2 separate regions of the Homo sapiens genome follow, and region 1 is linked to region 2. The links come from fine-mapping of genetic effects on gene expression. A gene starts in region 2. The other region holds a variant in brackets. All regions are shown on one strand. Distances are from middle to middle.

Evidence for each region. PIP is the estimated chance that this variant, and not a neighbour inherited with it, causes the effect. A credible set is the group of variants that fine-mapping cannot tell apart.
Region 1: its variant is the best candidate, but not a certain one, in a credible set for the expression of TNFRSF8 in whole blood (INTERVAL, PIP 0.83).

Annotation. Positions count from the first base shown.
Region 1 is chr1:12,146,178-12,151,554 of GRCh38, reverse strand. No RefSeq gene overlaps it. Among named protein-coding and RNA genes, the nearest start is that of MIR7846, 18 kb to the left of the region's middle. RefSeq lists enhancers at 3,004-3,133, 4,987-5,066. The variant T/C (reference allele first, on the strand shown) is at 2,404.
Region 2 is chr1:12,060,029-12,065,405 of GRCh38, reverse strand. It overlaps TNFRSF8 (TNF receptor superfamily member 8), which reads right to left and starts at 2,103. Exons shown (of 15, transcript NM_001243.5): 1 at 1,745-2,103. The coding sequence starts at 1,807. RefSeq lists silencers at 1,711-1,840, 2,428-2,660.

The DNA.
Region 1 (5,377 bases), 86 kb before region 2:
GCTGTGGGAGCTTGGAGGTCCTGGGCCTGGGTGTCCTGGAAGGGTTTTTGGAGGAGGAGGAGAAAGATGAGGTTGGAAATTCAGGGGTTGGAGCGCTGAGCAGAGATTTCATGATGAGGATATGCCCTCTGTATTTGGTGACTGAGCGGAAACAGTCGGGTCTCAGGAGAGGTTTAGATATGGGAGCTGTGGAGGTAGCAGCAAAGCTGGATTGGCAGACATTGGCATGTAGGCACTAGGGAGTCATAGAAGGTTCTGTGAGGGAGAGGCCTGGCCACAGCTGGGCTTTGGAAAGGAAAGGTGGGATAAAAACCAAGAGCAAATTCCATTCCCTGTGCATTCACTGAGCCCCATGGATGCCTGCACAGTGTTCTACAGGGTCTGGGACTCAGGGCTGGGGCCTCAGCACAGTGGTGACCTCGGCCTGAGCCACAATGGAGCAGCATGGCCAAGTGTGTGAGGACGCAGACTCCAGCCAGGTGGCCTGGGTTCAAAGCCTAGCTGCGCCACTTAGCAGCTGTGTGACCCTGGGGAACTGGCTTAGCCACTCTGCGTGTTGGTTTCCTCATCTGTAACATAGGGGTAATGTAATAACTACTTCCTAGTGCACTGTGAGGTTTAAGTGAGAGCACACGAAAGCCTCAAGTACAGCTCTTATCATCTTTCTTACTAACCTGTGACTCCATGCATGGCAGGAATAAAGCCTCTTCAACTCTATTGTCAAAGCCCAACCCAGATGGGCACAAAGAGCTTCTCAGGGAACTTTCGATGCATGAACTTGGCCCAGAGGACCCAGGGTCACCCAGCGAGTGCCCCGGTATTCACCAGGAGGTCTTCTGCACAGGGTGAGGAACCCTCCCTCAGTACGTGCAGAAGCTGTATTTCCTGAGTGAAGTGTAATTGCAGTGAAAAACAACATCCCTCCTGACAGCCTGTACTTGCATAATCTACCCACAACTCTATGTGACTTCCTGACATGGTTCTGTGCAACCCAAGTTGGGGGCCCCATCCTGCCCTGGAAGGTCCCAGACCCTGCCCTCTTCCTCAGGAGAGGCCTGGCAAGACCTCTCAGAGCCTTGATTTCCCTATCTAAAAACTAGATAGGGCCTAGTTTGTATGGGTACCAAGCTCAGATGTTCTCTAATCAGACAGATGTGAGCTTGCTTTCCAGTCCTGCCACATTCTGACTGTATGGGTCCCTGAATGCACAGGTCAGCTGCTCAGTCCAGAGCTCACACTCTGGAGACAGACCAGCTTGGATCCAAATTCCAGCCAGAGGAACTTGGGATTCCACCAGGTTATGTAGCTTCCTTGAGCCAACTCCAAGGACAATAATGGCAAAATTACCGAGAGGCTAAAATGAGACAGTATGTGAAGTGCTCCTGCTGACACATAAGATCTCGAGATTCTTTGACACTCCTCCTAATGAGGGGTGGGATCTGTGTCCCCTCCCCTTGAGTCTGGGCTCTGTGACTACCTGGAATGCAGCAAAGGGGATGCAGTGCCAGTTTCCGGGGTCAAATTTTATGACGCTGGCAGTTTCTACTTCCTGCCCCCGGAGTTGTTGGCTCCAGGAACCCAGCAGCCATGCTGTGAGGAAGCCCAAGAAGCTCCACAGAGAGAAACTGACAGCCAGTACCAATTTGCCAGCCCTCTTGGAGGTGGATTCTCCAGCTCATCTCATCACCCCCGCTGGTACTATGTGAGCCGAGATGCACCTCCCCTGCTAAGTCCAGGCCACATTGCAGATTTGTGAGCAAAATTAATGACCATTGTTTTAAGCTATTAAGTTTTGAGGTGATTTGTTATGTAGCAAGAGATGACTGGAACAGTTACATCAGTTACTGGTCATTTAACACTTCTTAAAAATGGGGACATGTGTGCTCATCTATAAGGTCCCTCTGAGGTCACATGACAATGGAGGTAAAATGCTTTGGCATTAAGTGAATTCTGAATTAACGATTTCCCTGCCCCCATGCAAGATCAGCTACATAATTTGTAGAACTCCATGAAAAATGAAAACACAGGGCCCCTTGCCAAAAATTATTCATCACTTTCAAGATGGCGACAGCAGAGCATTAAACCAAGCCCAGGGCCCTTCTGAACCTGGGGCCCTCTGACTGCACGGATCAGTAGCTTGTGAAGCTGCAGAAGCCCAGCTGATGGGATATTTTTGTCTACTCTGTTTACTCTTGCAAAGCTGCCTTGTAAGTAAGAACCCAACCCTCTCACCACAGTTACTTTTAACATCAATTTTTTCTTTAAAGGAAGAATGAAAATCAGCATGTCATCTTTACTGCTCCCTTGGACTAGACAGTGACTTTCCCCTACCCCAGCCCCAACTGACAGCTACAGTTAGAGCTATCTCCATCACACAGCACCAAGCTGGGACCCTGGGAAAAC[T/C]GCTTTGCCTCTATGGGGCTCAGTTTTCCCATCTGTAAAATGGGAGGCTTGTTCTTGATCGTCTTCCTTCAGGGAGCCTCAGGTGGGGCAGTGAGCAGGATATGAGGTGTTACTGGGGATGGAAAGGGCAATTCCACTCTCAGGCAGTTCTCCCCCAGAGATTCCCTGGACTCAACCCAGCCCCGAGTCTCCCTGGACCTCAGAATCACACGCCTGTAATCCAGTACTTTGGGAAGCCAAGGTAGGAAGATTGCTTGAGCCCAGGAATTCAAGACCAGCCTGGGCAACATAGAGAGACCTGTCTCTACAAAGAAAGAAAAAAAAAAATTAGCCAGTCATGGTGGCACGTGCCTGTGATCCCAGCTACTCGGGAGGCTGAAGCAGGAGGATCACGTGAGCCCAGGAAGTTGAGGCTACAGTGAGCTGTATTTGTGCCACTGCATTCCAGCCTGGGTGACAGAGGAAGACCCTGTCTCAAAAAAAAAAAAAAAAAAGAAAGAAAGAAAGAAAGAAAAAAAAAATCACACACACCTTTGAGGAAAGCTGTGTCAAGGAAGGAGGCCCTGGCTGGGTTAGCTCTGTGTCCTTCCTGTCCGGTCAGAGCAGTCAGAAAGCCACACCCAGCCTGGAGTTTGACCTTGGGCAGGTTACCCTGCCTCTTGCAACTGTCCCTGCCTTCCCATAAAGGGAGGAATAAAATCAGCCTCTATTCTATCTCTCAGTTGTGGTGACTTGAAGATGAAAGGAAACTTATCTAGAAGGCATAGTGCCAGGGGATGACCACGATATGAACACAACCCCTGACCACAGAGGCAGCCAGGCCACCTGGGCATGGGGAGGGATTTAGAATCACAAAGTTGGGGGTTGAACTCCAGCTCTGGGACTTCCCAGCTGTGTGGCAGTGGGCCAGTTGCTTCGCTCCCCCCCACTCCCCGAGCCTCAGTTTGTAAAAGGGAGTGCTGCCACCCAGCCTATCTACTGTCCAGGGTTCTATTAGGAAGCCCAGATGTACAAAGAATGCGGCCTAGGCGAACTCTCAGCTCTTAAGATGCTGCTCTTGATGGCTGTCATTTACTGAACATGGCATACGTGCCCAGACTGGACTTCCACAGTCCCTCTCAGCCTTATAGTTCCTTTTCTTTTTTTTTTTGAAGACAGAGTCTCGTTCTGTCACCCAGGCTGGAGTGCAGTGGCACGATCTCGGCTCACTGCAACCTCCGCCTCCCAGGTTCAAGCAATTCTCCCACCTTAGCCTCCCAAGTAGCTGGGATCACAGGCATATGCCACCATGCCTGGCTACTTTTTGTATTTTTAGTCGAGACGGGGTTTTGCCATGTTGCCCGGGCTGGTCTCGAACTCCTGACCTCAAGTGACCCACTCACCTCGGCCTCCCAAAGTGCTGGGATTGCAGGCGTGAGCCACCGCATCTGGCCCCATTAGGTCCATTTTGCAGACCAGAAAACCCACATTGAACGCACATAAGGGCTTTGCTTGGGACCAAGCAGCTGGGAGCTTGTCGAGCCGGAAGCCACAGCTCCATGCCACCGTCATGAAATGGCCACTGCCTCCATGAGGGCTAAAGGGTAAAAAGCACAGGCCACCGCTGACCCTGTGATACTGAAATGATCCCTCTGCCTCATGACCGGGAAAACAATCACCACACCAAAACACAAACAAAGGCCTCCAGGCTTCCCAGGGTTTTTCAGTTTGGTTTTTACTCTCTGGAAGATACCCAGAGAAAGGGGGAAGCTAGACCGGCAGACTCCTAACCCTACCCATAGCTACAATCATCACCAGGAATGCTGTCTTAGTTCTTTCTGAGAAAACCCATCTAACTGCTTCCTGGCTGCCAGCAGCTGCTGCCTGTTTCCCCAACTTCCCTCCAAAATAGGTTAAAACAACCTTTGCCGCCCCTGGTTTGGCCTTTCTCACTGATTGCTGAAATAATACCAGGATGTTTATTGTTCTACTAGGAAGAAAACAGAAAGAAACATAGACCAGTACTTTTATGATAAAATCTAGGTGCCTAATCACAATGGCCCACCAGGCCCTCCTCCCCAGGCCTTCCCCCCTCACCTCCTTTTTTCCCTCGCCCACCGTGCCTCTTCCACCACTGTGTTCTTCCTGAAACTCGAGGCAGGAGTGTGCCCACTTCAGCTCCCTGCCTTCCAGACCTCGCTGGCTTGTGACATCACTCAGGCCAAGTTCAAAGGGCACCTTCTCAAAGAGGCTTGCCCTGACCACCTAGCTAGTGGTGGCCCTCCCCTCCCACTCTGCCACAGTACCTGGCTCAGACTCCTTGTGGTTCACAGCGTGATCTGACTCTGGAATGACCTTGTGTACTGATTTGATGACGCCACCGTCTGTCCCGTCCACCAGACACAGGACCCACGAGAGCAAGTCTGTGCCCCACTAGTCCTCAGCAGCTAGACCCTTTAATTGAGGAAAGCCCTCGAACAGTAATGTGGTGCAATCTGGAATGTGCTAGAACCACGAGTGAGATGTCCCTCCGGAGGGACCCGCAGCACTTCGCCGACATGCCCAGAGTTACAGACGTCGAATAATGAGCCAGTCCTATGACTGTGATCTGAAGGGTTCTTGGGGTAGCCCACAGAACAAGAAGAGGCCTGCCCACTGCGGGGCTTCCCACAGCAAGTTGGCCCCAAGGGTGGCTAGGTTCCCAGGCTGGCCTGAAAGCTCTGATTAACCTTGATGGGCTGAATTCTGCAGACATAGGAAGGGCTCGCTCTTGACAAGCGGCCACCAGGCTGGAATAAGGACAGAACCTGCCACTCAGCACAAGCCACACACCGAGTGGCATGTCAGGGAAGCCCCACAACCCCGTCAGGTAGAGACTGACACCCCCATTTCACAGACAAGAAAACTGAGTCTGAAAGAGATCATGGAACATAGCCAAGCTCATGCAACTGATAAATGGCAGAGCTGGGATTCGAGCCTGTGTGTGACCCCGCAG
Region 2 (5,377 bases):
TTTATTTTAAAAAGGGTATGGGAGGCTGGGTGTGGTGGCTCATGCCTGTAACCCTAGCACTTTGGGAGGCCGAGACGGAAGGATCACTTGAGGTCAGGAGTTCGAGACCAGACTGACCAACATGGTGAAACCTCATCTTTACTAAAAATACAAAAATTAGCCGGGTGTGGTGGCACATGCCTGTAATCCCAGCTACCTGGGAGGCTGAGGCAGGAGAATCACTTGAATCCGGGAGGCAGAGGTTGCAGTGAGCCGAGATCGAGCATTGCACTCCAGCATGGGCAACAAGAGTGAGACTCAGTCTCAAAAAAAAAAAAAAAAAAAAAAGGTTTGGTATGAGAGTTCAGGCTGTAGTGAGTTATGATCGCACTCCAGCCTGGACAACAGAGTGAGACCCTGTCTCTAACATTAAAAAAAGTGGAGGGGGCTTCACTCTACAGAAAGGAAGCACATGAGCTTCAGCTGCCAAACCAAACCAGCAAAGCCCCCCAAGCACCTCTCACATCTCTTCCTTCCCTTCATCTCCCCAAGACCTTGGCACTCCAAACTCTTACCTTCCCCCAGGTGAGGGCTTGCAGAGCTGGGACAGGGTGTCTCTAGCCAGGGCTTTGTCCCCTCTGCCCTCTTGGGGGGAAAGGGGGAATACCTCACATTGCCCATTGGAAATGGAAGAGGGCATAGTTCCTCCTTTGCTGCATAGTTCCTCCCTCCTGCCTAAAGCCCACTCTGCCACTCTCCTCCCACTGCCTAAGGTTCAGATGACTAGAATTGATCCATAGCATGGAGTCCTCTCTTCCTGTAGGATTAAAGGGGAACTGGGTCTTCCCTCTCCCCCACCGTGACCCACCGCTGGACTAACAGCCTGCTCCTTCCTTTCCCTCTGTATCATTCAGCAGGCATCCACTCGCACCTACTATGGTTCTATGCAGGGGTCCACCGGGGTCCTGGGTCAGCTGAGGGCCTCTCTCTCCAGCAGCCCCTGGGCTCCGTGAAACACGCCTGGTTACTTTGCATTCTCCCCACAGTGATTAATTTGGCGCTGGCCACTGGTAAGTGCTCAGTTTTCCTAAAGCAGTCCCCAAACTCAATTCTGAGGCAACCCACCATAGACTTCAGCCCCACCACTGACCTTCTTCCAGGGGCAAATGCCCACCACGTGCTCCAGCGAATTCAATCCACAGCGTTGCTTTGCCGGACGCGGATTGGGGAAGCTAATCCCGGTGGTCCTGCACCCTCACCCCACTCTCACCCACAGCCAACTCTCCCTCCTTTCCTTGACCCTCCAGCCAGTGGCCAGCTTAGGAAGGGGGCAAACGGGACCGCGCACACAACAGGGTAGAGCGCGGACGACCAACCTCCCATGGCTAAGGGAGGCCCCATCTGGCCTGCCCACTACTCCCACGGCCTCACCTGATCTGCCCAGGACCCCGACGGGCCCGCAGGTAGGCGGGCTAAAGAGCGCCTCCCGCGTATGGCAGTGCTCTCAGTCCAATTCACACTGAATGAATGAATCAGTCCCAGCCATCGCGGGGTGAGAAGGAGGCGCCCCCCACCACTAGCCCTTCAGCCAGCCTCCCACCTGTGGGTGCTAGCATATTCCGGTGTTCCTGCTTGTCACCCGCGCCCCCTCACTCCAGCTGGGCAGGGAACGGGGTGAGGAGTGTCCTCCCTTGCGTCCCACGCACCCCACACTGTCCGGGCTCTGGACCGCCGGCACCTCCCCAGGCGCCCGTCACCCGCTTACCTGTGGGAAGGCTCGTAGCGCCCCCAGGAACAGCAGTCCCAGCGCGGCGAGGAGGACGCGCATCCCCGGGGCCGGACGTGAGGTGGCCTGGCGGCCGGCGCCCACCTGGGAAGCGGGGGAAGCGCGCGGCGCCCACGTGCGGTCCCGGCGGTTCTCAGCCGCGCGCGTGGACTTCAGGCTCCAGCACACTCCCGCCGCGGCCACCTAGTCCGCACCCAACGCACGCCGCGAAGTCACTTCAAAAGTGGTTGTTCCTCCGAGGTTTCAGCCTTAGTTCTCCCGTATCAAATTGGTTCCAGGAACACTTAGCTACAAGCAGCGAAGAAAAAAGGGGGCAAACACGTGCAGAGATGACTCAGGAAAAGGCACACTAGGAGACGCCTCCCTTAGCTGTTTGAATGGCCCGCCCCGGATTTGACGGAACTAGTGGTCCTGGCTCTAGGGAGTGTGCTGCCCGCCGCACCTGGGCTGCGGGGAGCGGAGGCAGGCAGCTTCTGGCCCTGGAGGTGGGGACTCACAGGATATTAGGAGGCCCCAAGGGGGTTCCAATGCCCCCACCTCCACTCCTGCCCCAAGAAACGGTGAAATGTGAGTAGTTTCCTGTCCCTGACACGATCAGCCAGGACCTTCTCCCATGCCCTTGAGATTCTTTGGAAGGGACAACTGGCCTAGGGAGACTGCAGAAAAAGCAACCATCACCCACCCATCCCCATTCATAAGCATTTGCTGTAAAATGAATCAGTGAGTGGATGATAAATTGGTGGATGGATGGATGGATGGATGGATGCATAGGTGGATGGATGGATGGATGGATGGATGGATGGATGGATGGATGGATGCATAAGTGGATGGATGGATGGATGGATGGATGGATGGATGGATGGATGGATGCATAGGTGGATGGATGGATGGATGGATGGATGGATGGATGGATGGATGGATGCATAAGTGGATGGATGGATGGATGGATGGATGGATGCATAAGTGGATGGATGGATGGATGGATGGATGGGTGAGCAGCAGGTGAGTGGGTAAATGGGTGGGTGGATGGGTGGATGGATGGATGCATAGATGGATGGATGGATGGATGCATAGGTGGATGGATGGATGGATGGATGGATGGATGGATGCATAAGTGGATGGATGGATGGATGGATGGATGGATGGATGGATGGATGGATGGATGCATAGGTGGATGGATGGATGGATGGATGGATGGATGGATGGATGGATGCATAAGTGGATGGATGGATGCATAAGTGGATGGATGGATGGATGGATGGATGGATGGATGGATGGATGGGTGAGCAGCAGGTGAGTGGGTAAATGGGTGGGTGGATGGGTGGATGGATGGATGCATAGATGGATGGATGGATGGATGCATAGGTGGATGGATGGATGGATGGATGAGCAGCAGGTGAGTGGGTAAATGGGTGGGTGGATTGGTAGATGGATGGACTGAATGTTGGAGGAACTGATGGATGGTATAGATCATTTTATTTCCCTGAGGCCTGACCCTTTAGAGTTTTCTTCCTGGAGGAGGCGGCTGGCACTCTCTCCTAACAGAAATGATTCAAGCCTCCTCGTACTATGTTCTCATTTGCTGGTGAATGATTTTCCCTTCCAGTGCTTCCCCATCCCCTGGGTTTTCTCTTTGCTCCTTTTATTCCACATTCCGTGTGTCTGTGTTGAGCATCTGCTGGGTGGGCCACAGGTCAAGGGTTCTTTTGACTGATTTTGTTTGGTTTTCAGATGTGAAAGCCAAGGCTCAGAAATAGGCAGGCAGTCCTAGGTGCTCTAATTAAGGGTGGGCCAGTTATTTTCCCTGAGCCCAGAATAGCCTAAGGATACTCTGGCTTCTGTGTCTACCTTGATCTGTCCTGCGAGGTACCAGGCCTCCATCAGGTGAAGGCCCTATAGGGTAGGAGTGATAACCTCCCACCAGGAACTTCCCAGCAAGGTCTCCACAACTGACCACTCCATGCTCAACCCTCCTGGGGCTGCTGGACTCCACTTGGGAAAACTGCTCCATCATGCCCCTTCCCAAGAGACCCACTTCCAGACTCTCCTCTGGATGTACCAGGCCCAGTATCTTAGGCTGTTTGAGCTGGGACTATGTTAAACAATGAGGTAAGCAATTATGGAAGTGACCTGCCTGTGATAATGACAGAACCAGACAGGGACAGGAGGAACGCAAGACACCTGCTTCCCAGTCCAGAGCTTTCTACTACAAAAGTAGAAAAGCTGGCAGCTGGGTGACATGGCTCATATCTGTAATCCCAACACTTTGGGAGGCCGAGGTTGGAGGATCACTTGAGCCCAGTTTGAGACCAGCCCGGGTAACGTAGCAAGACCTCATCTCTATTTTTTGTTTAATTAAAAAAGAGAGAGAGAGAAGGGCTGGTGTTTTGAATAAATAAATGAACAACAGCATCAAAATAGCTTGCACAAGGAGAAATACAAATAAAAATCAATTACAAGTTTTATAAGTTTAACCTTTTTAGTAATTAAAGAAATGCAAATTCAAGCAACCTTTGATAACCTTTTAGATCTATACAATCATCATTTTTTTTTTTTTGCTTTATAAAAACAATTTTGGTAAATCCAACCCCAAAGTTGTGGTGAGACCAGAATACTCATTCATACTCTGCTGGTAAATGTTACAACCCTTTTCAGAAAGCAGTATGGCAATTTTTAGCAAAAGCCAAAAAAAAAAAAAAATGTGTACTACTTGTGAGTGGCTCAGTAATTTCACCTCAGTGAAGAAAAACTAAGGAAATAATTTAACTGGAAAACTAGAAAAAGAAAAAAGAAAACTATACAGTAACATTTCCTTATATATTATTTATAAATTTTTGAAATACTCTGAGATTCACAACAAGAAATGATTACGGAAATTGTGGTACATCCATTTAATGGAATATTGCACATCCATTAAAAAGGATAAATCTATAGATGTTGTGGAAACTTGTCTCTCCCTCATATCCTTCCCTCCATGGATTTCCAAAGAGACCTTTCTAGCACACACATCTCACCAAGACACTCCCCTGTAGAGAACCCTTGCGGAAGTATGGTGTGTGTTTTGGCAGAGGACCACGTAGAAAATTATATTATTCATTTAATGATAACAATAACAGCTACCTTTGAGTGCTTATTTTGTGCTAAGAGTTTTCAGGCATTGGTTTCTTGTATCCTCATGAAAACCCCATGAACAAGGTCCTACTTTTATGCCCATTCTGCAGGAAAGGAACCCCTGCAGTGGCTCCCCTGGGTCAGAGTCACCCAAATGCAAGGGTGCACAAGTCTGCTCACAGCCTGGCAGGGGCTGACTCCTCCCTTGTGCCTTTTTACTTCTCCTGGACCTATACTCCAGCCAAATGTGCAGCCTTCTCACCCCTGCCAGCCTTTGCCCACGCTGGCCTCCACCTGGGACGCACACAGACTCCTGATCATCTTCCTAACCTGTTCCAATGCCACCTCCTCCTTGTTGCTTTCCTGGCAGTGTCTCCTGTCCCCCAGCCCTCTTCCCAGTCAAAAAGTGGTTTCTGTCATTTTTTGTGCCGCAATTCTAGATCTGATCTCATCATGTCATAACCATAATGACTGGTTCATGCATCCCTCTGCCCCAGGAAA